5 separate regions of the Homo sapiens genome follow, and regions 1, 2, 3 and 4 are each linked to region 5. The links come from fine-mapping of genetic effects on gene expression. A gene starts in region 5. Each other region holds a variant in brackets. All regions are shown on one strand. Distances are from middle to middle.

Region 1 (5,105 bases), 71 kb after region 5:
CCAGGCCCGGCTAATTTTTGTATTTTTAGTAGAGATGGGGTTTCACTATGTTGGCCAGGCTGGTCTTGAACTCCAAACCTAAAGTGATCCACCTGCCTCGGCCTCCCAAAGTGCTGGGATTATAGGCGTGAGCCACCACGCCCGGCCATAAACTTCTGTTTTTTAAGCCACCCAGACCGTGGTACTTTGTGGTAACCCAAGCAAATGAACACATTCACTCTAATACAGTTAGGGATTTGCTAATATAAAGGAATTTAAAGCATATTTTACTGGATCATTTTCTAGACAATCAAATTCTTTTTTATGCTGAATATGAGCATATGTTCAGGGTCCTAGAATTTTTTTACATAAGATTATACATAAGATTACTGATGTATAATCAGTAATCTTATGGGCACTGATGTCTGGAAATACAAGACACTGAAAAAAAAAGTCTCTCCACGAGATATAGATACCTACTGAACACCTATAATGATAAAACTCAAAAACAGCATGACTGTCCTATTTCAGAACAGGAAGTCAGTAGTAATAAAAATAGACAAGAAACAAAGGCAATTTTAGAACAGGTGGTTGGTAAACTGAAGTTATCTATAAAGAGGAACACAATTGATAAGAAGCAAATGATGCAGCAGAAAACACTACCCTGTGGAAAACCCAAATCACCTGCCACTCGTTTTTTATCCTGTATTTGAGCAAACTACAAGAGTAGGAGAAAAAAATTGTTACAGATTCTAATTTCTTATATAAGCACAATTCACAGTATTAGCAGTTTAAGCTGATTTGTGGTTATCTTATAATAAAACTGGTATTTTTTTCAAGAGTGTTCAAGATATAGATACAATGAATTATGAGTCATTCTGTAATTCCTAACAGTGTAGTTAGTTGTGAGACCCTACTTTTCTAAATTTAACCAACTATAATATGGCTAAATCCACCCTCCCCCACCCCCACCAAAAGCCACTAAAAACCACAGTGAACATAAATTTTGCTCAATAAACATTTATTAAGATGCCACTATCTACCATATACTGTGAGGGGAGTAAAAATGAAGAGGAAATCTACTTGGTCTTCAAGGGACTTACAGCCTAGTTGGGAAGACAAACACATAAACAAATAAGTTAAATATAATATACTAAGAGATATCCAAAGAGTGCAATGGGACCACACAGGAGAGACCCTTAGCCAACCCTGGGGGTTGAGGCCACCTGAGTTAGAAGTGGTTGGCCAAAGAGGGCAGAAAGAGCATCACAGGCAGAGGAAACAAAGCGAACAAGGGTTCACCATAGAATCTCAAGCATCTGTGGCCAGACAGGGTGACTGAAAGACACAAGAAGGATTACAGTCTAAGGATTTTTGAAGAAAGAAGTGAACTTTTCCAGTCCAGATACAGTCTGGATATTATTCCAGAAACAACACAGGGTGTGAGCAGCAAAGAAAGACCTAAGTGGAGTTATTCTACAATGCCCAGATCTGAGACGCAAAAGAGCAGCACCACCAGAGAACCCCTATTCACCTAATGACTGATGGCAACAAGCATTTTGCAAAGCCCCTGGCAGAGAAACAAAACTTCCCAAAATAATTATAATAATACACTGGATACAAATGAAAGACCCCAGATGAAGATTGTTTTTTATCACTTGGAAGTTCAGTATTTGCCGTTAGACTGACACTTGTCTACAGTTTGTGTTGCAAGCCCTCACGCAAAGATGCACGCACACCAATGCATACAAGGTTGCTCGAGGCCAGGGTGGGAGATGAAGACAGACCAGCAACAAACCAAGATTCAAAAAGCAATGTTTCAGACAGGTCACAGACCACTTGGGCAATTTCCTCAGCTATACCTGGCTGGAGTTTTTACTAGATTTCCTAATGAAAAGAGCTGGTTGTTGACACCAGATCCCTGGAGCACAGTCTACAGTCTGCCTCATATATAAACTGGATTACGTTTTCTGTATGGTAGACAGTATATGGTGCGCCCTTAGATTGGGCTCCATCATTCTCAGCTTTTTATTTTTATTTTATTTATTTATTTATTTTTGAGACAGGGTCTTGCTCTGTTACCCAGGCTGGAGTGCAGTAGCGTCATCACAGCTCAATGCAGCCTTGACCACCAGAGCCCAGGTGATCCTCCCACCTCAGCCCCCCAAGTAGCTGGGACTACAGGTGTGCACCATCACGCCAAGCTAACTTTTGATTTTTAGTAGACACAAAGTCTCACTATGTTGCCCAGGCTGGTCATGAACTCCTGGGCTCAAGCAATCCTCCTATCTCAGCCTCCCAAAGTTGCTGGGATTATAGGCATGAGCCATCCACCTGGCCCCAGATTATCCTTTTATGGTCTATATAAACTTGTCCCTAAAAAAAATTTTTTTTTCAGAATTGTTATAGATGTCTTCCTAGAGTAGGCAGAGTGGCAGACATCAGCTGCTGATTAGAGTGGAGACTCCTGTGCTCAGCACAAGCACTTGATGTGCCCTCCTCCCCAGGAATGAAGCTTATTTCTACATAATCACTGATTCACACTATTGACCTGAATAAGATGA[T/C]GTTCTCTATTGTCAGTTTAAGAGAGTAAGAAAATATATATCCAAACTCTTTAGAAAATAACTAAAATATAAAGGATAGGCCTTGAAAGAATTAAATCTTAGTCTAGAAAATTTGTTTTCTCATAACTGTCCCCCTCCTCCCAGCTATCTTCCATGATATGCTACTGTGGATATCTTGCCAGGATTTCTGTGTCCCTCACTAGCAGAATAGGGTTTTGCTGTAACTGTCTGGAATCTCTTGTCTTCTCTCCCCTTTTTTTGTCCTCTCCATGGCATCTCCTGCATCCTGTGTCCCACTCCAGGACTGGCTGGTTTGAAAGAACCACAGCTGGCATTCCTTGGGATTCCCATCCCAAGAAGGTGGCCTGAGTTACATCATGGTACCCTCCTCTAGTGCTAGAATGGTGGTAAGAGTGGCCAGAGAGGAGAGGAGACAAGGCCACAGAATCAGTGACCTGAGCAACAGGCAGGAGCTGCTACAGCTCATGTTCAGACCAAGTGCTTATCTAGAAGTAGCAGGGCTGACAGTATCTCTCTCCCTTTTTCCAAGATATGACTTGGGGCACTGGTACCTCTGATTTTGAGAGTCCCACTGTTGAAAGGAATCATCCCTTCCAAGAAGCCTCCCAAGATGTCTCCAGGTATAATTAGTCCTCCTGTCCCCCGCTGTTCCTCTGCTACACTCTTTGTTTCCATTAGAGGACTCATCACAGTCTGTTGCACACTGAAGACTGAGACCCTGGGAGACAACGGCCATGTCTTCTTCCTCTTTGTACTCAAAAAGAGCCTGCCTTGCTCAGGCACTCCATGAATCCATAACATCATTTAATATAATCTTATGTAAACTGATAAAATATGAGGGCAAAAGGAAGCATTACTCTCATGAAAACAGTATTTCTCAACAAGCTACTGTCATTTTGGATGGTGCAATTCTTTATTGTGTGGGATCCACCATTCACTGTGGGATGTTTAAAATCCCTGACGCTTGGGTGCTAAATGCCAGTGTCTGAAACACTAAAATTTGTCCTGTGCACATTTTTAAATGGCTCCTGTTGAGAACCATGAGGTAAATCTCTTAAAACAATGGTTATTCTGTTCCCATTTCTCCATAAAATGTCTGTATGTGTACTCAATATGGAATCAATTCATATCCATATTCACATTATATTAATACAAAAACAAACCAAGAAGGAGACAGACAGCAAATCACGAACAATGATTATCCTGGAAATCTGCGATGATAGGGCCCTTCATCGCCTAAGGAGTATATTTCTGTAGATTTTGAGTTCGTATAGTGAGTTATGTACTTCCTAATAATCACATAATAATAAAGATTTAAGTGGTAGGGAAAAAAGTACTGTCAAATTAGGCATGGGAAAGGCAACCTTTAAATTTTTAAATTAAAAGACTTCTGCTCTCAGATTGTTCTGAAAGTATATTAAGGTTCATGTTCCACACTAAAAAAAAAATTAAAACTGGTAGAAATCATAGATTGTAGATACTACAGTTTAAATGTCTGTATACCCTCCAAAATTCATATGTTGAAACTAATTCACCAATGTGATGATAGTATGAAGGAGGTGATTAAGTCATGAGAGTGGAGCCCTCATGAGTGGGTAAAAGAGGTGTGAGGGAGCTGTTTCCCCCTTTTGCCCTTCTGCCTTCTGCCATGAGAGAACACAGCATTCAAGGTGCTATCTGGGAGGCAGAGAACGAGGCCTTTACCAGTCACCGAACCTGCCAACACTTTGATCTTGCACTTCCCAGCCTCCAGAACTGTTTGGCATTTAAAGCAAGGTAAAAGACATTGCAGAATATTAAGTATAGTATTGTAATATTTATGTCAGAAAAAGGAAGTGACACATACAGCTACATACTTACATATGAACAGAATATCTCTAAAAGGATACAACACTAGAACCTCATATAATGGATAGTCTCTAAGGAGAGGAATTGGGGGACTGCCCAAGGGGTGGGAGAGAGACTTTACTAAATACCTTTTGAATGTTTTTCCAAGTGCATGTCTACTTTCTCAAAGAATGAACAGACATCAAGTCACTGTGTTTCATGCAGTAGAAACAGACCCATTAAATGATGTGTGATGTCTGACCCATGGTTCTCAACCTGAAGGGATCACTGTCTGGGTTTCTATTTTGGCTTCAAAACCATACAACATTCTAGCTAAGTTCATATTTAAATTATTCCTTTCTTTTGAAACTCTTGGGAGATTGGGTGTGGGTAAACCATCTAGTTGTCCAAAGAGTTAAGAAAGACATAGGAAATAGTGTTGCCATAATCATTTTCTTCCTGGACAAAGAAATGGTGTTCTGTGTCAGACTTAACAAGAGTGCTTGTTTGCTTCAAGAGCTGCATGGATCATCAGAAAGTCTACGTAACACAGTAGGAACATCTGCATCAAAATTGCTGATATGAAGAAGATTCTATTATAAAACATCTTTCCTTGTCACCTTGTCTGGCACAACACTGCCTAGCTCTCAGTCCTCCCACTCGCAGGGATGACAAATGGACTCACTCGGCCACCATCCCCACCTGTCTCTGTGT
Region 2 (5,105 bases), 32 kb before region 5:
AACCTCCCTTAGTTATTTTCAGTCTACCAAGAGCTTCCAAATGTGTTCTCTCATTTACTGCTTATCTCCTGGTATGGAAGATGTTAAAGATTTTTAAAATTGGGAAACTACAAGCAACAAAGCTAAAATTCAAAGTTCTTAAATGTCCTCATGCCTGAATTCCTTCCTGGACTTTCCTTTTTTTATTTAAAATTTGTCTCAAGGTAATGGCCTCACAACTCTATAAAATCAATGGCTTAGTAATAATTACAGTGAAAATCAACTCCTGTCCTGCTCCCCAAAAGAAACCACTCTCAAGCTTTTCTCTTTTTAGCGTTTAGAATGTTTGCCTCCATATCTCAAAAATACATATATTGTCATTTTTCTTTCTAAAATTGTTTATATTTTCCATCTAAGTTATAAATGCACAGAGCTTTAAAAGCCAAATAGCTCCTCAAAGTCTAAAAGACAAAGAGCAGCCCTTTTCCCTGTACAACCTGCATGTTCTAATTCCATTTCCATTCCCAAAAGCAAACTTGCTCAAGTCTTTCAGTGTGAGCCACCACACCTGGCCTCAGCTGTTTCTTTTGGTGTTTATCTCCACATTTTAAACTGCTGTTTCTTGATTTTTTTTTCAGTTCCAGATATTATTATCTATGACTCCCTTCTGTGGGAGATACGGATTTAGTCTCTTACATTCTCTTCTTATTCTTTCAATATAGTTATATTACAGTGTTTTTCTCTGATAATTATTGAGTTTTTTGTTGTTTTGTTTTGTTTTGTTTTGAGATGGAGTTTTGCTCTTGTTGCTCAGGTTGGAGTGCAATGGCGCAATCTCGGCTCACAGCAACCTCCGCCTTCTGGGTTCAAGCGATTCTCCTGCCCCAGCCTCCAGAGTAGCTGGGATTACAGGCATGCGCCACCACGCCCAGCTAATTTTGTATTTTTAGTAGAGACGGGGTTTCTCCATGTTGGTCAGGCTGGTCTCGAACTCCTAACCTCAGGTGATCCACCTGCCTCAGCTTCCCAAAGTGCTGGGATTACAAGCGTAAGCCACTGTGCCCGGCCGATAATTATTCAGTTTTTACATAATTAAAATGACAAATATTATTCAAAACTGAGGCATATATATATAAGATTATATTGACACTTTTGGTACAAATTCCTATTTTCCCAGGAGTTGATTATTATTTTATTTGTTTGCATAATTTTCTACATGCCTATCACAAATTCATTCCCTATTCTTCACCAGAAGTGTAAACCTCCTCTTACTGCATTGATTCATAAAGTATTCTACAACAAATGATTTTAATTTCCTTAGTGACATCCTTACTAGAGCTGTGTGTCCTGTATTAATCTCACTTGTTGCTCTCCAGGTTTCCTGCAGAGCTGCTATGCTCAAATCACCTTCACAAAGATCATGTAGATTCTCTTTTCATCTGTAAGGTGATAGATCCCCCATTTCTTGGATCCAATGTCTTCCTCTTTCTTGTTTTCTTCCCCTTATTTTCTTAGATTATATCCTGCAGTAGCTTCCTGTAAAAGGATACATGAGACATAAGTTTTCTGAATTCCTCTGTTTGAAATTATCTTTATTCTGCTCTCACACTTCATTGATAGTTTAGCTGGGTATTGCATTCTAGGTTTAAAAGAAATTATCCTGGCTGGATGCAGTGGCTCACACCTGTAATCCCAGCACTTTGGGGGACCAAGGCGGGCGAATCGCAAGGTCAAGAGATCGAGACCATCCTGGCCAACATGGTGAAACCCTGTCTCTACTAAAAATACAAAAATTAGCTGGGCATGATGGTGCATGCCTGTAGTCCCAGCTACTTGGGAGGCTGAGGCAGGAGAATAACTTGAACCCAAGAGGCAGAGGTTGCAGTGAGTCGAGATCATGCCACTGCACTGTAGCCTGGTGACAGAGCGAGACTCCATCTCAATAAATAAATAAATAAATGAAATTATCCCTCATAATTCTTAAGGCATCGTTCATTGCTTTCCCTAGTCCAATATTGTAGTTGAGCAAGCAGTCTGATGCATTCTGATACCTACTCTTAGCATAAGACTAATTCTTTTTTCTTCTTCTGAAAGCTTTTGGGATTCTCTCATTATTCCCAATGGTCTGACACATCTCAATGATGTGCCTTGGTGTGGGCCGTTTTTTATTTGTTGTGTTGAGTACTTGGTACCTT[C/T]GATTTTTAGACATAGCCTTCAGTTCTGGGAACTTTTCTTGTATACTTTTTCCTCCATTTCTTCTCTTTCTTGAGCTCCTTGTAGTCAGATATTGTTCCTACTAGATGGATAGTCTAAGTCTCATACCTTTCCTTTCTTATTGTTAATCTACTCATCTTTTGGTTCTATTTTCAGCAGACTTCCTCAACTTTATCTCCTACTCCTACTACTGAAGTTTTTAAAATTATATTTTTAGTTTCCAAGAGCTCCTTCCTTTTTTATCTAATTGTTCTTTTATCATCGCATTCTGCTTTTATTTTATAGATACAAATCTCATAATTTTTCAGGCTATAAATTAGCATTTAAACAGTATTTTTCTATTTTCTATAGTTTCCCTTTATATTCCATTTTCTGTTTTTCATGTTTCCTCCTCTCTTTTAGGTTAGAGGTATGATTTACATGCCTCATGGTATTTTTTTGCCGACTTATATTTAAGAATAGAGCACTCAAAAGCTGACGAAGAGCTCTGTGTGGGTAGACGGTGTTTGTAGAGTGATGGGTTTCACTTTTGTATGGTATGGAAAACCTGTTATCTGTTGTATATTTAACTTTTTTGGGGAAAAAACCCCCTATATTTCCTAGGTGAGTGACTTCTGAATCTTTCTTTCCTTCCTTCCTTTCTTTTTTTTTCTTTTCTTTCTTTCCTTCTTTCTTTCTTTTCTTCCCTCCTTCCTCTCTCCTTCCTTCCTTCTTCCTCCCCTTCTCTTCCCTTCCCTTTCCCTCCCCTCCCCTCCCTTCCCTTCCCCTTCCTTTCTTTTTTATTTTCTTTCTTTTCTTTCCCGTTTTAAGACAGAGTCTTACTCCTGTAGCCCAGGCTGGAGTCAGTGTTGCAATCACAGCTCACTGCAGTCTCGACCTCCCATGTTCAGGTGATCTCACACCTCAGCCACCACACCCAGCTAATTTTTTGTACTTCTAGTACAGACAGGATTTTGCCATGCTGCCCAGGCTGGTCTCAAACTCCTGGGCTCAAGTGATCCTCCCACCTCAGCCTCCCAAAGTGCTGGGATTACAGGCATGATCCACTGTGCCCAGTAAACCTGACAGTAAGAAATTCTTTTTCATCAAGTCCCAGTCAACACACTCACATATATTTATAAAGACAAAAATGTTTTGTGAAACAATATTTACTTTCTCTTCATAGAATGCTCTCTGACATTCTCTATCTAGTCTACTGAATTTTATTTTCTTTCATGTTTGTGATGGACCATTATATATCCATTAGATACACTGCAATGAAGGGACTAGTTGCCCCAGACTGTGAGATGGCTGCTGGTGGGGACTCTTCAGTTGTTGGCCTTTTCAGGGATTGCTTCAGTGCAGAGCTGCCTTGCCCAGGGTCATACTTCCTGTGGCCATATCCAGTAAGGGTTGGGGGGTGGGGGGAGATATTAGTTTTCTAGGGCTGCCATAACAAAATGCCACAGATTTAGTGGCTTAAACAACAGAAATTAATTTTCTCACAGTTCTGGTGGCTGGAAGTCTCACTGTTCTTTGTACATGTGGGTGTCCCTGTGTGTCTTTCTCTTCTTATAAGGACACAAATACTCCTGGATTACTGCCCTATCCTAATGGCTTTGTTTTAACTTAATCATCCTTTCAAAGAGCATATTTCCAAATAAGGCTACATTCTGAGGTTCTCTGTGTTGGGACTTCAACATATGAATTTTGGGGAGATGCAATTCAGCCTATGACAGAGAATAAAGTCCTGGACATCTTGGCCTGGTGTGGGACAACTCTGAAAAGCCAGTCTAGCTTCAGTGCTCCTCGTGGGGCTGGGTGAAATAATCATTGGGTCTTGTATCACAGCTCGCATTCTCTTTTTGTCCAATTCTGTATCCTTCCACAGATATTGGTCCCAAGGACAAACCCTAATAAATGTTCTGAACTCTCAACTCCACCTCAAAGTCTGCTTCTCAAGGAACCCAACCCAAGAAAATGTTGGTTATGACCCATTAAACAGATTTTATACTCCACTAATCATAACTGAGTTCATAACCCACAATTTAGAAACATTGGCCTAGGGGTTAGTTCCCTGATTAATAGTGCTTTCATTGTGTAGGAGGGGAGAGAGCACAGATAATCCAACCATTCCCAGTGCAGACTTGCAATTCATTTGATTGTTTAGGTCCTCCTGCCTTCTTTCTTCTATCAGGCTTGGTTTTTCTGATGCTCAGGCCATTCCTACTGGGTGTCTCTTGATTAAAAAAAAAATTCGTATTTCCTCCTGGAGCAGGAGGGAGTAGCTTGGCTGCTGATATTCTGTATCTGGGGCACAAGAGTAGTTGACTGTTCCATACATAAGCTTTGAACTTATCTCAAACTTTGCACTCCGTACCTCACCCCCACTCTCTGCCAAGACTGATGACTCCAAGTCTTGAGCTTCCTTCAGGTCTTCAAGGTGAAATGTCTTATTTATCTTCAGTACACCCCACTGCACACACTTTAGACTATGGCTTTCTCTCCTTTTACATCAGTTAACCTTCCTCCATTCTCTTTCCAACAAATATTTATGAAATGTCTCATCTACTCATCACCCCTCTCCTGTTCTCTATTGAGAGAAGAGATATAAGAGATATGCCTGTGTTCATTCTGCCATCTTTAGCGAGAATCCAGCAACTAGAAACTTAGTGGCAGTTCTATCACCATGTGGCAGTTGAATGAGCCAAGAGGTCCTTACTTGTCTCTTGCTTTTGCACCCAGCTTGCACCTTTTTATATGTGGAGATTTTTACGTGAGAAGCTTTGCTTTAGGTGGGGATACAAAGTTAAATCATATAGATCTGCCTTAAAAGTCCTATGAGCCATTAAGAGCTTTAAGATTAAATATGATTCAAGAGAGAAAGTGATAAAATACATAAGAGGGCATAGCAAATTTTTGTGGAAATTTAA
Region 3 (5,105 bases), 100 kb before region 5:
AGGTATCAAACCACCAGTGATGGCTGTCTTTCAGACCCATACAGTAGAAGGGGCCAAAATTTATTAACTACTTTTTGATTTTAAATTTTGCTTTACAATATCTTTTCCGGCATCAGTAGATTTCAAGTGATGCTCATTTCTGTCCTTCCACCCTCTCAGTTTGCCCAGCAGTCAAGGTTCGTTTTCGTCAGGACTATTGACATTGCTGTGAAGTTTCCTGTGGCAGGCTGCCCAGATGCTTCTGTCCAGATCCTCTGAGCACCAAGCAGTTACACAAGGCCCCTCTGTGTGGCTTATTGTCGCCTTCCACTCCCACTCACATACTGTGGATGGATAGGAGTTTTGATGCTAGGGTCAAAAATAGGCAGGTTACTTACTTAAAAGGTGGCATTTTGCAAGCAGAATGGATACTCAGAGAAGAAGATGGACAATGTGAGGACAATCAGAGGCAGGAAAAGATGTAAGGAATTTGGAACAGTCCAGGCTCCCCATGTAGCACAGTGGTCTGACAACTGGGAGTCCTCTCTGAGAAAGAAGGGAAGGCTCAGTGCTGCCGGGAGCACTCTGATTACTCCTTGCTCTGTAGGCTCTGGCAGCCCTTCAGACAACATCACTAGCTCCCCTGCTCCCGCTCCTGCAGTGTTTCATCCCTCTTTCTTCACTTACTTTCACCTCCCTCTCGGGCACCCAGTGTGTTACTGATGTCTGCATTTGTTTCCTGACAAGGAAGAACGTGATCTGATCCAAATATACCCAGAGGTATTAAGGTTGCAGTGTGCTACTTTTCCTAAGATGTTTATACCTGGAGACTATTTGCTTGTTCAACAATTAAGCACTGACTGAGGGATACACACTAAGCCTATAAGCACAAGAAAATTAAATCTCTGCCCTATTTCCTGGTCTAGAAAGCGGAATACACATGTAAACAAGCACTTGCACACATTATAAGATGTTCTTAGTCACACAAAGAAAGAGTGATGGTTCTGGTTTGGGTAGGGCAGAGGGGTGAAAGTCAGTAGGCCTTGTAAGCAAGCAACAATTGGACAGGTCTGGAAGGATGAAATTAATAGACTCAGGAAGTGCAGGCACTCCCCAGCAAGTACAGAAGCACAGAGGCAGTGAGGCAGCATAAACATGAGCAGTAACTTAGGGAAATTATTGTGAAATGAAGCATAACTGATTCCAAATGACTTGAGAATTACATGTGAAGAGGGCAGAGGCAGAAGATGAAATTGTAGAGACCAAATTGTGCAGGAGCCACCTCTGACACGCTAAGCAGTGTGGACTTTATCTTGTAGCTGTAGTTCTCAGCACCAGTGAGTGCAAGAATCAAGCTGTGAGTGTCAGACATGAGAATAGTAGATACAACTAAGAGAAGAGAGAAATGATTGAAAGGGGAACAAGGGGGCTTCTGAAGTGCTGGCAAGCAAGGCCCTCTTTCTTGTTCTGGACCATGGTTATGTGGATGTTCACTTTGTAATCATTGAACTGCACATTTATGCTTTCTGTACTTACTGTACACTATACTTCTCAATTGTGAAAAAGTATTTTTAAGAAAATCAAGCTGGATTATTTATTGAAAACAGATTCCAGGATCTCCCTGTCAGACATACTGATTAAGTAGGCCTGGGCTGGCACTTGGGAAATCTGTACTTTTTAAATGATTACCTTAGTGAAGGATCTGAAGCCAGAAGGGACCCCTAGACCACACTTGGAGAACACTGCTAGCCCTTTTGGGGAGCCATCGAAAAGATTTAAGCAAGATGCTAAGAACAGAGATTTGTCTGTCTGAATGTTCTGGATAAAGGGGGAGGAAGAAGTTGAGGGTGGCCTCCACCTTATGCCTTATTAGCACTTGCAGGTTCTGTGTCCCATTCCTTTTGTGTTTTTAAGAGATGTGACAAATAAGGTGCTAATGACTTATAAGTACTAAATATGATTTTTGAGATGTGTTTTCTTTTGGAGTTTTCTTAAATATGAAAATTTTGGACTTCAGCACTTTAGTAGCTGAATTTGAGACATGGAACAAGCCCCTGGGGTAGATATTCTGGGGTAGGGAGCAACTTTGTAGAATTTCTTAAATGAGGGCATTCTCAGCCTGTGAGTCATAGTTGTTCCACTACTGACCTACCGTCATTACGACATACGCTTAGTGATGATTGATTTGCATGGATGCAGTTAAATTCATTTTCTTATGCCCCTGTATAATCAGAGGGATATTTTTGAGACTTAAAGCCTCCAATATGGTATTCTTCCAAACTTTAATCCTTCTGAAAAAAATATAACAAGTTTTGTTGCAAAGTTTTTCCTTTGCTGCTGACAGTGATGGAAATAGAAAGAGGAAACCTTACTTGGCCTTAAGCAGAGAATGAGAAAATCCAAAAATCTGACACAAAATTTGCACAGATTTTTTTTCCTCATAATTAAAGTACTAAGGAAATGCCATAAGATGATTCTTTGTGAGCAGAGCTCATCCATTCATCAGATCAGTAAAAATTTTAAAAGTCTGACAGCACAAAGTGTTGGCTAGGATTAAGAACATAGAAACTGCCTTTAATTCCAATATTTTGGGAGGCCAAGGCAGGAGGATCACCTGAGTCCAGGAGTTAGCAACTAGCCTGAGCAATATAATGAGATCCCGTCTCTACAAAAAATAAAAACTTAACCAGGCATGATGGCACACGCCTGTGGTTCCACCTAG[T/A]GGGGAGGCTGAAGTAGGAGGATTGCTTAAGCCTGGAGTCCAAGGCTGCCGTGAGCTATAATCATGCCCCTGCACTCCAGCCTGGGCCGCAGAGTGAGAGCCTGTCTCAAAAAACAAACAACATAGGAACTTACTTCTGTTAAGAGTATAAATTGGTACAAACACTTTGGAGAGCAATTTGGTGGTATTTAGTTAAGTTAAAGGTGTGCATACTCTGTGACCCAGAAATTGCACTCCTAGGTGTAGTCTCTGAGAAGCTCTCTTACCTGTGCCCAAGGAGATACATACAAGAATATTCACAGCAGCATAGAAAAAATTGGAAATGATGTATATTAGATCAACAGAAGAATTTATGGGTAAATTGTGAAATATTCAATGAATATAGCTCTGAAAATGAATGAAATAGATATGCATATCTCCCATGGAAGAATCTCACAAACAAGATGTTGATCAAGTTGACCAAAAATCAAGTTGCAAGACCAGACGCAGTGGCTCATGCCTGTAAATTGGGAGCACTTTGGGAGGCCAAGGCAGGAAGACTTCTTGAGGCCAAGAGTTTGAGACCAGCCTGGGCAACACAGCAAGGCCCTGCTCTACAAAAAATAAAATTAGCCAAGCCTTGGTGGCACATGCCCATGGTCCTAGCTACTCAGGAGGCTGAGGTGGGAGGATTCCTTGAGCCCAAGAGTTGTAGGCTGCAGTGAGCTATGACTGCACCAATGCACTCCATTCTGGGTGACAGAGCAAGACTCTTGTCTCTTAAAAAAAAGATTGCAGATGAATGTGTAGAATATATTTCTATCTAGGTTAAAAACTTGCAAATGCTATTGTTGTGTGGGAAACAACAACCATTGTTGCTGCAATGGTAGCCTGTAAGTACACTAACAGGCAAGCTATTCAAGGGATCACAGAACAAGAAAGGCTTATGGACCAAAACAAAATCCTCAAATCACGTGGCTTATTAAATCAATTTAAAACACACCATAAGAAGCTAGGTGAAAGACATGGAGGGGGTTAACACATTTAAGATGTGTCACAGGAGGCAGGGTGGAAAGATGACAACACCTGAATCCTCAGTCCTGTCTCTCCCTGCCACATCAGCCTTCCTAACCAAGTGTTTGCTTGCAAAGATCAGAGTTGAGATTTAACCAAAGCAGCCCAACAGACGGGTGTTTAGGGTCAAAACACACAGTTGCTCTAAAGTCTTGGGAGCAGAGTGGGTCTAGCTGACAGCAGTAGCTCATCAGTTAACCTCATGAACAGCTATGGATTTTATTTATATTTCTTTTGCAGAGGATATGAGGAGCCAACGGTTGGCCAGATTAAAACCTTTTGAATAGGGAATGCCTGATATGCCTTAAGTATCTTCAGTGCGTCATGAAAGTTGGATGATTCAGGGCCTCACATGTATCATGACTATTAGGTGTTTCTTGTTCTTTCCATCTCTTTCTAATTATGTTCATTACGCAAATGCACTACTACATTTTGTAGGAATTTTGCTTGTTTCATAAGCTACTTGCTTCAATTCTTAGTTTCATTTTTTTCTCCCTATGTGTTTGTTTCTCTTATTTTGTATAGCAGAATTGAATATTCTTAAATAATTAAACAAACACACATTATAAATACATATGTAATATGGTTAAAATAAAAATAAATGCTTAGAAAGATTAATCCCCAAGTTCAGGATTTGCCTAACTATGGTAGAGGCATAAAGGGGTGCATTAAGGATGGAATTTACAGGACTTCAGTTATATTGGTAATGTTTTGTTTCTTAATATGGATGCTGGGTATGTGGGTGTTTATTATATTATTATTTATAATTTTATGCATCTGAACTTTTTAAAAATAAATTTAAGAAAAGTTTGAAATAGTAAATACCTGGAGTCTTACAACAGACATTTGATACTTTTCTTTTTTTTAAGACACAGAATCTTGCTTTGTTGCCCAGGCTGGAGTGAAGTGGCACAATCATAGCTCACTGTAACCTCAAACTCCTGGGTTCAAGCGATTTTCCTGCCTCAGCCTCCCGAATAGCTACAACTATAGGCATGTGACCACCATGCCTGGCTAATTTTTTAATTTGTTGTGGAGACAGGGTCTTGCTTTGTTGTTTAGGGTGGTCTTGTATTCCAGGCCTCAGGTGATCCTCCTTTATCAGTCTCCTGAGTCACTGGGATTACAGGTGTGAACCACAGTACCTGGCCTTATCATTTTTTATTTTAATAAAGTTAAAGAATTTGACTAGGCCAAGTTAATTGATATGTTATCTCTCTATTGCTAGGTACACACATGTGTTTTTTAACAAACATTTGCTGAGTACATACTATTTGCAAGGAAGGCATTGTACCAGTTGACATGGGAGATGAAAAGTTGAATATGGGCTGGGCGCAGTGGCTCATGCCTG
Region 4 (5,105 bases), 65 kb before region 5:
TTTTTTATTTCTACTGCCGTTGCTTAGAATTCTTAGTACTTGGTCAGGTTAGTAAACATTGGTTGAGCTGAGTTATAGAAGGAGATGGCCTGGAGTGCTTAGCTCCTGGGATTGCCCTGGTACCTGGAGAAACAGATTCTTTGGCATATAAGAAGCCCAACAGTGACCACAGGTTTTTATCATTTGCGTTAAGTATCATAACAAGTAGTTTCAGCAATCATTATTTTCATGGAGTTGCTCGGAAATTATATTTTTATTTCCTTATATGTATATGTCTATTATCAACTTACATAGGTTTCATTCCAGATGTTTGGATTTGGACAGTACACATTTCTTAGCACCATCAAACCAGCACCCTTCCAGGAGCTTTGAGTCAAGACCAACGTAGGCCTGCCATTGCCACATTGTTACACAGCATTAGTTTCCTAGGGTGGCCATAACAAGGCACCACAAAGCGAGCGGCTTAAACAACAGAAAGCTATGGTCTCATAGCTCTGGATGCCAGAAATCTGAGATCAGGGTGCAGACAGGGCATGCTTCCTCCGAAGGCACTATGGAAGGATCGTTCTGGGCCTTTCTCTTAGCTTCTGGTGGTTCCTTGGCTTGTGGCAGCATAACTCCAATCTTCACACAGTGTTCTCTCTGTATATGTGACTGTCTCCAAATGTTGCTTTTTATAAGGACACCTGTCATATTGGATGACAGGCCCACCTGACTCCAGTATTACCTCATCTTAAACTAATTACACTTGCCATGACCCTATTTCCACATAGGGTCACATTTTGAGGTACTAGGGGTTAGGACTTCAACATGAATTTTAGGGAGATACAATTCAACCCACATCAATTGTTTGTACTTGCTCAGCTTTCTGAGCAGCCTTCTCAGGAAGGTACTAGCACTGTGTGACAAGTGGGCAGGGATGCTGGCCGCCAGGGCTGGGGAACACACCACTAAGACCTGACCACATGTTGGGCCATGGCTGCCACCGCACATTCCTGCACTGTCTGAGTCTGTTTTGTGTTGCTATAACAGAATACCTGAGGCTGAGGTAATTTATAAAGAAAAGAGGCTTATTTGGCTCACAATTTTGATGGCTGGAAGGTTCAAGACTGGGCATCTGCATCTGATGAGGGCCTCAGGCTGCTTCAACTCATGGCAAAAGGTGAAAAGGGGGCTGGCACGTGCAAAGAGATCACATGGCAAGAGAGGAAGCAAAAGAGAAACCAAGGAAGCCAGACTCTCTTTAACAACCCAGTCTCTCAGAAACTAATCCATTCTCCAGGAAAGCAAGGATTCACCCACCCCAAGGAGGGCATTCTTCCCTGCATAAAGAATCCACACCCATGACCCAAACACCTCACACTATGCCACACCTCCCAACAGGGCCACACTGGGGGTTAAATTTCAACATGAGTTTTGGCGAAGACAAATGACATTCAAACAATAGCACACGCCAGACAAATAATTTCTAGTCTGGCAGCACTAGCCTCATTCTAAGACTAACACTGATAACCCTCCCCTTGTACTCTACTCTACTGAGTCCCCTTTCCTCCCCCAGTATCTTCTAGTTGGGTTTTAACCTATTTCTTCCTTCTCCTTGAAGAGCCAATAATCAAGCAATGAGAGTTAGAAACAACAGGAAAAGGAATGAGAGGAAGAGCAAGAGGGAATGTTTGTAAAATACCACTGCTAAGATGGCAAGTGTGTTGTGTACTGTGACATACAGAACTAAGATAAGAAACCTTCGAAAACTAATTTTCTAAGGTTCTAGTTGCTCTGTACCGCTCAGACCAGTGAGAGATGTAGGAAGTGACACACACAGGGGCAGCTAGGATGGCACTGTACAGCAGGAGAGTGTGTGTGAAAGCCGCTGTGCTCCCATAAACTCTTCACAGCAGTGCAGGAAGAGGTCATTGGATCTGACTCTTGCCAAGGATAGTCCTCCCAGGTGAGGGAGAGGGAACATGATTGGGATGGGGGGATGGGGCACTGCAAGGTCGGTGAGTTTGTGAAGATGACTTGCCTAAGGGACAGTGAAAATAGGCCCACGTGCCATCTTTGTCATCCCTGCTATAGGTAACAGACACCTACTCTTGGAAAGCTTCCAGTGTAGTTTCGATGCATAGCGAGCTGTGAACACCTGGCTTATATCATTTGGAAA[T/G]TTTTACATAACTCCTACACAGCCAAGTAAACCGATTCCTGACTAGGGGCACAGCACCTAAAGTAAAAGACACAGAATCAAAAAGCAAGTAAAAATTATAGTTAAAATTAAAATTTTTAAATGCATTGGCAATATTAATACTATTCCTACTGACTGATACTTAATATATTACTAATCAGTAGCAAATATGGAAAAATACAGTGAACAAATTATAGGCCAGAAAGTATATATTTTGTCCATAACTCATCTGAAGTTATAGACATTTCAAGAGTTTTACCTGTGATGTTCCTCGAGGCCTGCCATCTATCCAGATGAAAATAAAAGTTTAGCCCAAAAGCTTCAGCTTTTTTTCATCTACTTGATGCCAAGTAGTAAATAGTGACAGGAAACAGAATTCTCACCACATCTTTGAGTCATATAAGCTAGATGTGTAGTTTTGTACAAATCTAGCCTGCCTTTTATAGCTTCTCTCTTCTATTTCCTGATTTCTGTCCTCTATTTATAGATGGAGAAACTGATAACTTTTGCAGTAGTTAACCTTCACTAATATCAAAATAATGGAGAATAAATTACAGCATGATTTTAGAAGAAACACATCTGATTTTATGACTAAAATCTGCTTAAAGTTGGCACAAGTCCTGGCCCATACTCCTTGTTTGATAAATGTTGGTTGAAACAAATTGAGAAAAAGGGGCCTAGAGAGCCACTAAAAACAAAACAAAACACCATTTGCAGTGTTTTTCTATTATTTGGAGAAAAATATAAATCAAGATAAGATGTAAATGCTGAATAAGGGAGTACTCTTAAACTTCAGATTAAGGTATATTAACGTTAGTCACTCAAGATATGAGGTTTGGTCATAAGGTTATTTGGCAAGGTTAGTATTATATGCAAAGTACAATTTCACTGGTAGTAAAATATTTTAAGTCTGTGCAGCAACATGGCAACATGGATCTAGGTAACTATTACATTCCAATTTAAAATGGTTGCTTTGCTAGCTAGTAGATAAAATGGGTTCTTAAATTTGAGAATCGCAGTAAAGCCTAACTTATTCCACTAAAATGTATTTTCAGCAATGCCTCAAAGTAGTTTGCAAAGTTTTGGGGATGAAAGCAAAACACGACTTGATGCCATTCCAAGTGGAAGGCTGGCAGCGCCACAAGTTATGAAAACAATGAATGAATCAATAGCATTCTTTAAGACAAAGGCTTATATCCATTAAGAAGTGTAGAAAAGCAATTATAAGTTACAGTTTAAAATAATATTTGTAATATTGGCTTGCCTTGGAATAAGATCAATTTCCTAAAAACACTTGTAAGCATCTTTGAGTAACTTCCATAAGTAGAAGAATTTGGAGAATAAATATCTGAATTCTGGAGGAAGCCCTCATTTTCCTTATTCTCCCAAGAGTCTTCTCTTCCCTCTCACTAAAGGTCTTCATCTCAGCCTTAAACAGTGGTTTTCAACCAGGGGTGATTTTGCTCTCCCCTCCCCAGGAAACATTTGGCAATGTCTGGAAATGTTTTTGTTTGTCCTATGGGGGTTGTCGGTAGGGAGAGAGGGAAGGTGCTACCGGCATCTAGTTGGTGGAGTCAGGGATGCTGCTGAACATCCTACAATACACAGGATGGCCCCACAACGAAGAAGACAATGAAGAGGAATCTGTCCCCAAATATCAATAGTTCAGAGACTGAGAAACACTAGCCTAGAGGTATAAATGGGATAGGTGTGTGTATGGTATTGGAACATAAACAAGTAGAATATTTTCATAACTGAACTCTTAAAGCCCTTTGAAACCCATGTAAACTGGTGGCCTTACAAATCAGCAGTTCCAGTAGAGAAATTCCACTTTCAAATTGGATGAGCAAAGAATGCTCAGAGTTGTTTTTTTTTTAATTCTTTGCTCACCCCATCTCCTCAAATAAAAGTTCTGAAGAAAGCATCGTGATAAATAATCAGAGGCACTGTTTCTTTTATTCCAAGGTTTTAGAACTGTGGCTGTGCCTTAGCCTGGGATTCGCAACTACTGTGTTGGGCACCTCCATCAGTTTGGTTTTTATTCTGTCCTGGAAGTTTTTACTGTACATTTTAACATTGATTGCTACACGGACATTCTTTCTACTACCCCTTTCAGTTAGATGCTCTTTTTGTCTTCTCATTCTCCAGGCCCTCATCAACACAGCAAGTAATTTTCAGGTAACATTTTTTTTCCAAGAAAGTTATTTTGTGGATAGTAATGTAGTCTTTATTATTCACAAGCTCTAAGAGACTTCAGCCAAAAGTACAAAAACTATATTTATACTCAGACTTTTCCAATTCTTTTCCCAGGGCTTTTTTTTTCTCCCCTTTATCTCTTAGCCCAAATTCCTAACTCTTCACACAGTCTATTTTAGAAATTAGAAAGCTTTTTTTTTTTTTGGAGACAGAGTCTTGCTGTTTCCCAGGCTGGCGTGCAGTGACATGATCATGGCTCACTGCAGCCTCAACTCCCCAGGGCCCAAGCGATCCTCTTACTTCAGCCTGCTCAGTAGCTAGGACCACAGGAGCACACCACCACACCCAACTAATTAGAAAAATTTTTTTGTAGAGGTGGGGTGCCCCTATGTTGCCCGGGCTAGTCCTGAACTCCTGGGCTCAAGCTATCTCCCTGCCTCAGCTTCCCAAAGTGCTGGGATACACGTGTGAGCCACTGTGCCTGTCCAGAAAACTTAAAAGAAAATGCAAATAATCCTTTTTAAAAAGTTGTAAACACCCACAACATTTTTATGCTTAGTGACTTGATGCCAAATATATATATTCATGGGTGAATGAGTATGTTGGGATGTATAAATGTCATTTGTATATTTATATGCATTTGTATACCAGATTTCCAAATCTAGTTGTTTTCTCTTACTACCCAGAGACAGCAGCACCCCTGACATCACCATACAATTTCATCAGAAGA
Region 5 (5,105 bases):
AAACCATATCGACCTATATTCAAATTCACCGGTTCTTTCCTCAGCTATGTCCAGTCTGCTGATAAGCCCATTGAAAGAATTCTTCATTTCTGATACGGTGTTTTTAATTTCTAGCCTTTCCATTTCACTTTTTAAGTAATTTTCCTCTTTCTGCTGAAATTCTCTATATATATTCATGCATATTGTTCACCTTTTCCACTAGCTTTATAAGCATATTAATTCTAGCCCAATATATGGGTCATTTCTGAATCTGGTTCTGTTTTACCTCTTGATTTTTTCTCCTCTCTGCTTTTTTGGGTGTCTTTTAATTTTTGATCAAATGATGGATATCACATGTAGGAGAATAGTAACAACTGAGGTAAATAATATTAATGTCCAGAAATAAACATGCCTCTTCTGTCCAGTCAATAATGTGGGTAGTTGAGTCAATCTAGTCAGGAGTTGTGCTGAATTTGGGTTTTGTTGTTGTTATCCTTGCCTTCACTCTGTACCACAGGCTTCATTCAGATTCCTCTAGCAGGGGGTTACTATTGCATTGTTTTAGTGTGGAACCTAGAGTGCTGGGGAGTTTTTCTCAGTGTCCCTCACTCAGCTTTTAGCAGTGTTTGCATGCCTGTGTTACAGAGAGGTCTCTCCCCACTCTTTTTCCTCCTCACTAGTTGACTGGTGTTGTCACTGGTGCTTGGCTTGTAGTGGGGAAAAGGGGTTTTTCACACTCCTGGTCCTGCCTTGGTTTTAGGCAGGCCCTGTGCACCTGAACCTTAGATGTGGGGCTTTCCCAGTATTCCTGACACTTTCCCATTGCAGCCAAATCCTTCCTTTATCTGTGGTGAGTCTTGAGTGAGAGAGGGTTTCCCAGCAGTAGCCAACTTCAATTTTCTATTGGTTCAGGACACAGAGCCCTAGTGTTTCCTGCTCCTGCTGCTCCCCAAAGGGCAGAAGGTTTGTGCTTCTATCTCTTCTCCAGAAGCAGGGGGTCTTTGCCAGGATCCTGTTGGTGGTAAAGCTTCCTGCCCTTCCCCCAGTGGATAAGGTTTTCATACAGAAGAAAAGTTTGGAGAGGTTAAGTGGAATTTCATGATTGTCCCCCAGTGACAGAACTATCACCTCCTAACATTCTTGTTATCTCCGGAAAAATATTTATTGCTTATAGAGAAAAATGTGGTGTTTCAATATAGCTTCTTTACAGATATTTACTAAGGATCTGTGATATAAATAGCACTTTAAATATTTAGTACATTGCTGCCTGCCCTTTTGTTTCTCCACCAGATATATCTGTAGAAAATACATTCATCATTCAACAACCCACCTGTTTATTTTAGCTACTTTCCATAGTGCCATCCAAAATTAAACCAAATCAAAATGAATGTGGTTAGGTACAAAAGCTGTCTTGCAAGAAGCAAGTGCACACCGCACCTGGGAATACAGGAAAGAATTGGATCAGGGCTCTGCTGTTTCTCTGAAGACAGGCTTCACTCAAGTAATGATGGTTTATTTTTAAAAACCATCCCTCTGAAGAGTCCCTTACAAGGAAATTTCTTAACTTTTTAAAAGCCATACATGGTGTACACATGGTGCCAAGTGCTTAAGGGCAGTTGGTTAAACCTTTCTTTGAGGGCAAGGAAAGCCTAGTCCATCCTACTCAGACTTTTAGGAAAAATGAGGCTTATCTATTTTTAACAGGATAATTTCTGTTACTTTGGGTTCTCTAAGATATCTCACCAAAAGACCAGAATTAGAGAAGACTGTCCTAGTTAAGTATGGAATATTGAGTCAAATTAATGGGTTCCAGGTCCTGTGGAGGGAATGTTCTTTAAAATATATGTATATCTCCTAATTATCAGTATTAAGATCATTCAGGTTATATGTTAATTTAAAAATATATCTATTACATTAAGAAACTTTTTTTTAACATAAGGTAATTTTAAGAGAACCTTGTCATGTTGGTGAAGGAACATTTTACGAGCCCCTCTGTACTCTGAAATGCCGTGTCCGAGATTAGACATACAAGTCAGTGTTACTTAAGCGGCCAAATTTCCAATTTGTTATTGCTTGTTACCAAATGAAAGTAAAAAGATAAACAGAAAGGTAAAATAAAGAAACTGGCTTTTATGTATTTTATTCACAAAAAGGGCGTTTGCCGAAGGACCTTCCCATTCACGGGCTGTCACTCACAGGTGCTCGGAGAATTCAGCCTCCAAATCCGCAGGTCACAGGTCAGCCAAGTTTTAAGAAACACTCCGGGTTAGCGACTCTTCCTCTCTGCAACTCCCACCCCTGCGCCGAGGGCAGCGGGACACGGCCGGGCGGTCCCCAGGGGAAGATGAGGCCCTGGACGCCCCGCGTGCGCTGGAGGCCCGGAGGCCAAGGCCGAGGCCGAGGCCGAGGCCGGGAGCATGCCAGCGGGGTCGCGCCACCGAAAGCTCCTCCGGCCTGGGCCCGCCGTGCCCCGAGGCCGCGGGCGGAGGCTGGAGCAACGAGCCCAACTCTCCCTCCGCCCCGGGGAGGCGGGGTCTCCGCCTTTCCCGCGTTCGGGCCTCACCGCCCCCTCCGCCTTCTCTGAGCCCCCGCGCCACTTCCGCTCCTCGCAGCGGAGCCGGTCCCCTAGGGCTCGGGTCGCACGGAGCTGACCCCTAACGAAATGGGGCCGCGCCAAGGGCGGTGGTGGCTGCTGCTCTGGCTGCCGCCCCTGGCCACACTGCCCGTGCGCGGGGAGGCGGCGGCGGCAGCGTTATCAGGTAACCCGGGACCGGCGGCGGCGGCGCGCGCGTGCGTGCTCGCTCCCCGGCTTCGCGGCTGCCCTGAGGGCGCGCTCTTTGGCCCGGGCGGCACCGCGAGGCCCACTGGGGCGGGCGCTCCCTTTTCTCGCTTTGGGGTCTCCCGGGCAGGCCCCGCCCGCCCTTCCTGTCTTACTGGGCTTCCGTAGTCTCTCGCCTGGCAGTTGGACATTTTGTAATTTTAGAATTAGAAGCAACCGCGCGATCCAGTCGCCCAATTCCCTCGTTTTACAGAAGCAACCGAAACTCAGAGAGGTTTTGATTTGCCCAGGGTCACACAGCTTGTCACTGGCACAGCTGACCCTAGTCTCCAGACTTTCAGCACACGGCCTTTTGTACAGTACATCAATGCGTGTTGAAATCCTTGTTATTTCACTATCTCGCATTCCTTTGGTCTCAAGACTAGAGAAGGTAACAGCTTCAGCTTCAGAATCGGAGCGAAAATTCTTCTGCCCCTGACTGTTGTGACCTTGAGCGAGTAAACATAACGGTCCCACGTGAGCGGCAGGTAATGAGGCCTCACAAGGTTCTTGTGGTGTTCGTGTGCACAATGCCTGGCACACAGGAAGCAAGAACTGGTAGCGGCTGCTAGCTGTAGGGGCTCGCCACGGAGTGGGCTTAAGATGCTGGCACACTGGGGAAGGATCTGGGAAGGACACCTGGGGAAGTCAGAAACCTAGAGTTCCAACTCCAGACCTGCCGCTAACTTACCATGAGCTTCACATTTCTGTTTCTTTTTTTTTTTCCCCTCATAAAATCTTTTAAAAGATTTCCTGGGTGCACTGTCTACCAACTTCCCTTCCTTGCTTTGGCTACCCTGGTTTCAAGGGAGGCTGCCAAGTGTATTCTTTTAGCTGGGCATGGCCCTCCCTCCGGTTATACCGCGGTTTTTTATCTAAGGATGAATGAGAGACTGGATGTTGATGAGGTCATTATCAGATTCTGCCACAGCTCCCAACTGAGGGAATCTTGCAGTGAGTTATATGTTGGGGAAGTGTTGGATTCCAGTTTTCATTGAAGAGAAATTTTTTGAGTGTTCAGTATGTGCTAGGCAGTGTTATAAGTGCTTTAACTGCAGTATCTATCATATTTAATACCCATAGAAGCCCTATGCGGGAAAGCACCATTTTATACCCATTTTACAGATGAGAAAACGAAGGTTTGGTAGTAAGAAATACAACAATTTTATGCTGGTGAAAAAATAAAACACAAATCTGTCTAAGCAGGAAGGTTTCTGGGCATGGCAACAGCGAGAAAATTAGAAGTAGCCTTAGACCAGCACCCAGCACCTTGGGTTCTAGACCACTCATTCCTTCAGCCACAACTTGTGGTATAACCTTGGTCCAGGCACAGAGTCTTTATGGACCGTAGTTTTCTCTTGAGTAAAATGAAGATGTTTTTACTGAAGAGTTTCCAGTATTTTCCTCACCTCAGTGAACCTGGTGTTTTTAAAGTTTTTATGTTACCGCATTTAGTATAATAGTAACAGCCTGCTTCTCTGCTTTGTTAATCAAAGACACACATAAATACTTATTGGAGCTTCTGTTCTGCCTGAGACATGCAGGATGCCCACTGACTTGATAAAACTAGTCCACAGCTAAGAAGAATGGCAACTTTTGTAGCCTTAGAGGGATGCCTGCCATTCCGGTAGGCTTTCCAATACGGACTGTGAAGCGCCCAGCATCTGGTAGTGTGCCAGTGACACTGTTGGCAGCCCTGGATTAGACTAGGCTTAAGAACCATAGCTGCTCTTTAAAAGTCTATGGTTTCTTGAGGACCCTGAGAGGAAACAGCTGGTACTTCCTTTAAGCGAGGGGCTTGGATTAGTGATACCTAAGGTGCCTTCCTGTTCTAAAATTTTGTCTTGAATAACACACACTTCAATGGAATGGAGAACATTCAGACCAACCCCAGCTTTCTGTCACTCTATTTGGAGGAAAGTCAGAGACAGTTGACACAGGAGGAGCAGGTAGTTGTCTGACTGAGAGGAGAAACTTCAAGAGTTTCCCATAATTTTCACCCAGTTAGTGAGGTCCCTAGAAACCATGTGTTGTCCTGAGATGAAGTTCAGGCCCTGTCAGTGGCTTTCCAGGCTTAAACTATAACAGTCCATTTGACACCACAGCTTTAAGATTCATCTGTGAAGATTTGAACTTGAAGTTAAAGACCTGAGTGTGCATGAGTATATACTAATTCCAGTTTCATTCTCATATTCTTGGAGAAAGAAAAAGATGAATATTCAGGTTAAAAAAAACTGAGGTTAAGAGAATAGTTACCTTTATCACTTTGGTGCCTCACGTTAACACCTTTGAAAATGTGTATTTACAA

Direction of the effects. Positions count from the first base shown, and alleles are read on the strand shown. Sizes are in standard deviations (SD) of each study's normalised expression. Not every link is listed here.
In carriers of allele C in region 2, the expression in testis of the gene that starts at base 2,575 in region 5 tends to be higher than with T alone (moderate effect, 0.65 SD a copy in GTEx).

What was found.
Region 1: its variant is fine-mapped to the expression of NEMP2 in T cells (TOPMed, PIP 0.98).
Region 2: its variant is fine-mapped to the expression of NEMP2 in testis (GTEx, PIP above 0.99). The same link has a PIP of 0.9 or more in sun-exposed skin.
Region 3: its variant is fine-mapped to the expression of NEMP2 in monocytes after Pam3CSK4 (Quach 2016, PIP 0.95). The same link has a PIP of 0.9 or more in monocytes after LPS.
Region 4: its variant is fine-mapped to the expression of NEMP2 in whole blood (TOPMed, PIP above 0.99).

Annotation. Positions count from the first base shown.
Region 1 is chr2:190,460,753-190,465,857 of GRCh38, reverse strand. All of the region lies in intron 3 of MFSD6 (major facilitator superfamily domain containing 6), which reads right to left. It also overlaps a transcript of NEMP2 not described here. Among named protein-coding and RNA genes, the nearest start is that of MFSD6, 55 kb to the right of the region's middle. The variant T/C (reference allele first, on the strand shown) is at 2,544.
Region 2 is chr2:190,564,483-190,569,587 of GRCh38, reverse strand. NEMP2-DT (NEMP2 divergent transcript) reads right to left here. Exons shown (of 5, transcript NR_183903.1): 2 at 1,313-1,515. It also overlaps a transcript of NEMP2 not described here. Among named protein-coding and RNA genes, the nearest start is that of NEMP2-DT, 32 kb to the right of the region's middle. The variant C/T (reference allele first, on the strand shown) is at 2,175.
Region 3 is chr2:190,633,589-190,638,693 of GRCh38, reverse strand. It overlaps NEMP2-DT (NEMP2 divergent transcript), which reads right to left. Exons shown (of 5, transcript NR_183903.1): 5 at 1-348. It also overlaps a transcript of NEMP2 not described here. Among named protein-coding and RNA genes, the nearest start is that of NAB1, 13 kb to the left of the region's middle. RefSeq lists enhancers at 1,172-1,241, 777-1,511. The variant T/A (reference allele first, on the strand shown) is at 2,702.
Region 4 is chr2:190,596,738-190,601,842 of GRCh38, reverse strand. The region is part of intron 4 of NEMP2-DT (NEMP2 divergent transcript); the gene reads right to left. It also overlaps a transcript of NEMP2 not described here. Among named protein-coding and RNA genes, the nearest start is that of NAB1, 50 kb to the left of the region's middle. The variant T/G (reference allele first, on the strand shown) is at 2,162.
Region 5 is chr2:190,532,192-190,537,296 of GRCh38, reverse strand. It overlaps NEMP2 (nuclear envelope integral membrane protein 2), which reads left to right and starts at 2,575. Exons shown (of 9, transcript NM_001142645.2): 1 at 2,575-2,738. The coding sequence starts at 2,642. It overlaps NEMP2-DT (NEMP2 divergent transcript), which reads right to left and starts at 2,459. Exons shown (of 5, transcript NR_183903.1): 1 at 2,176-2,459. RefSeq lists a silencer at 2,262-2,911.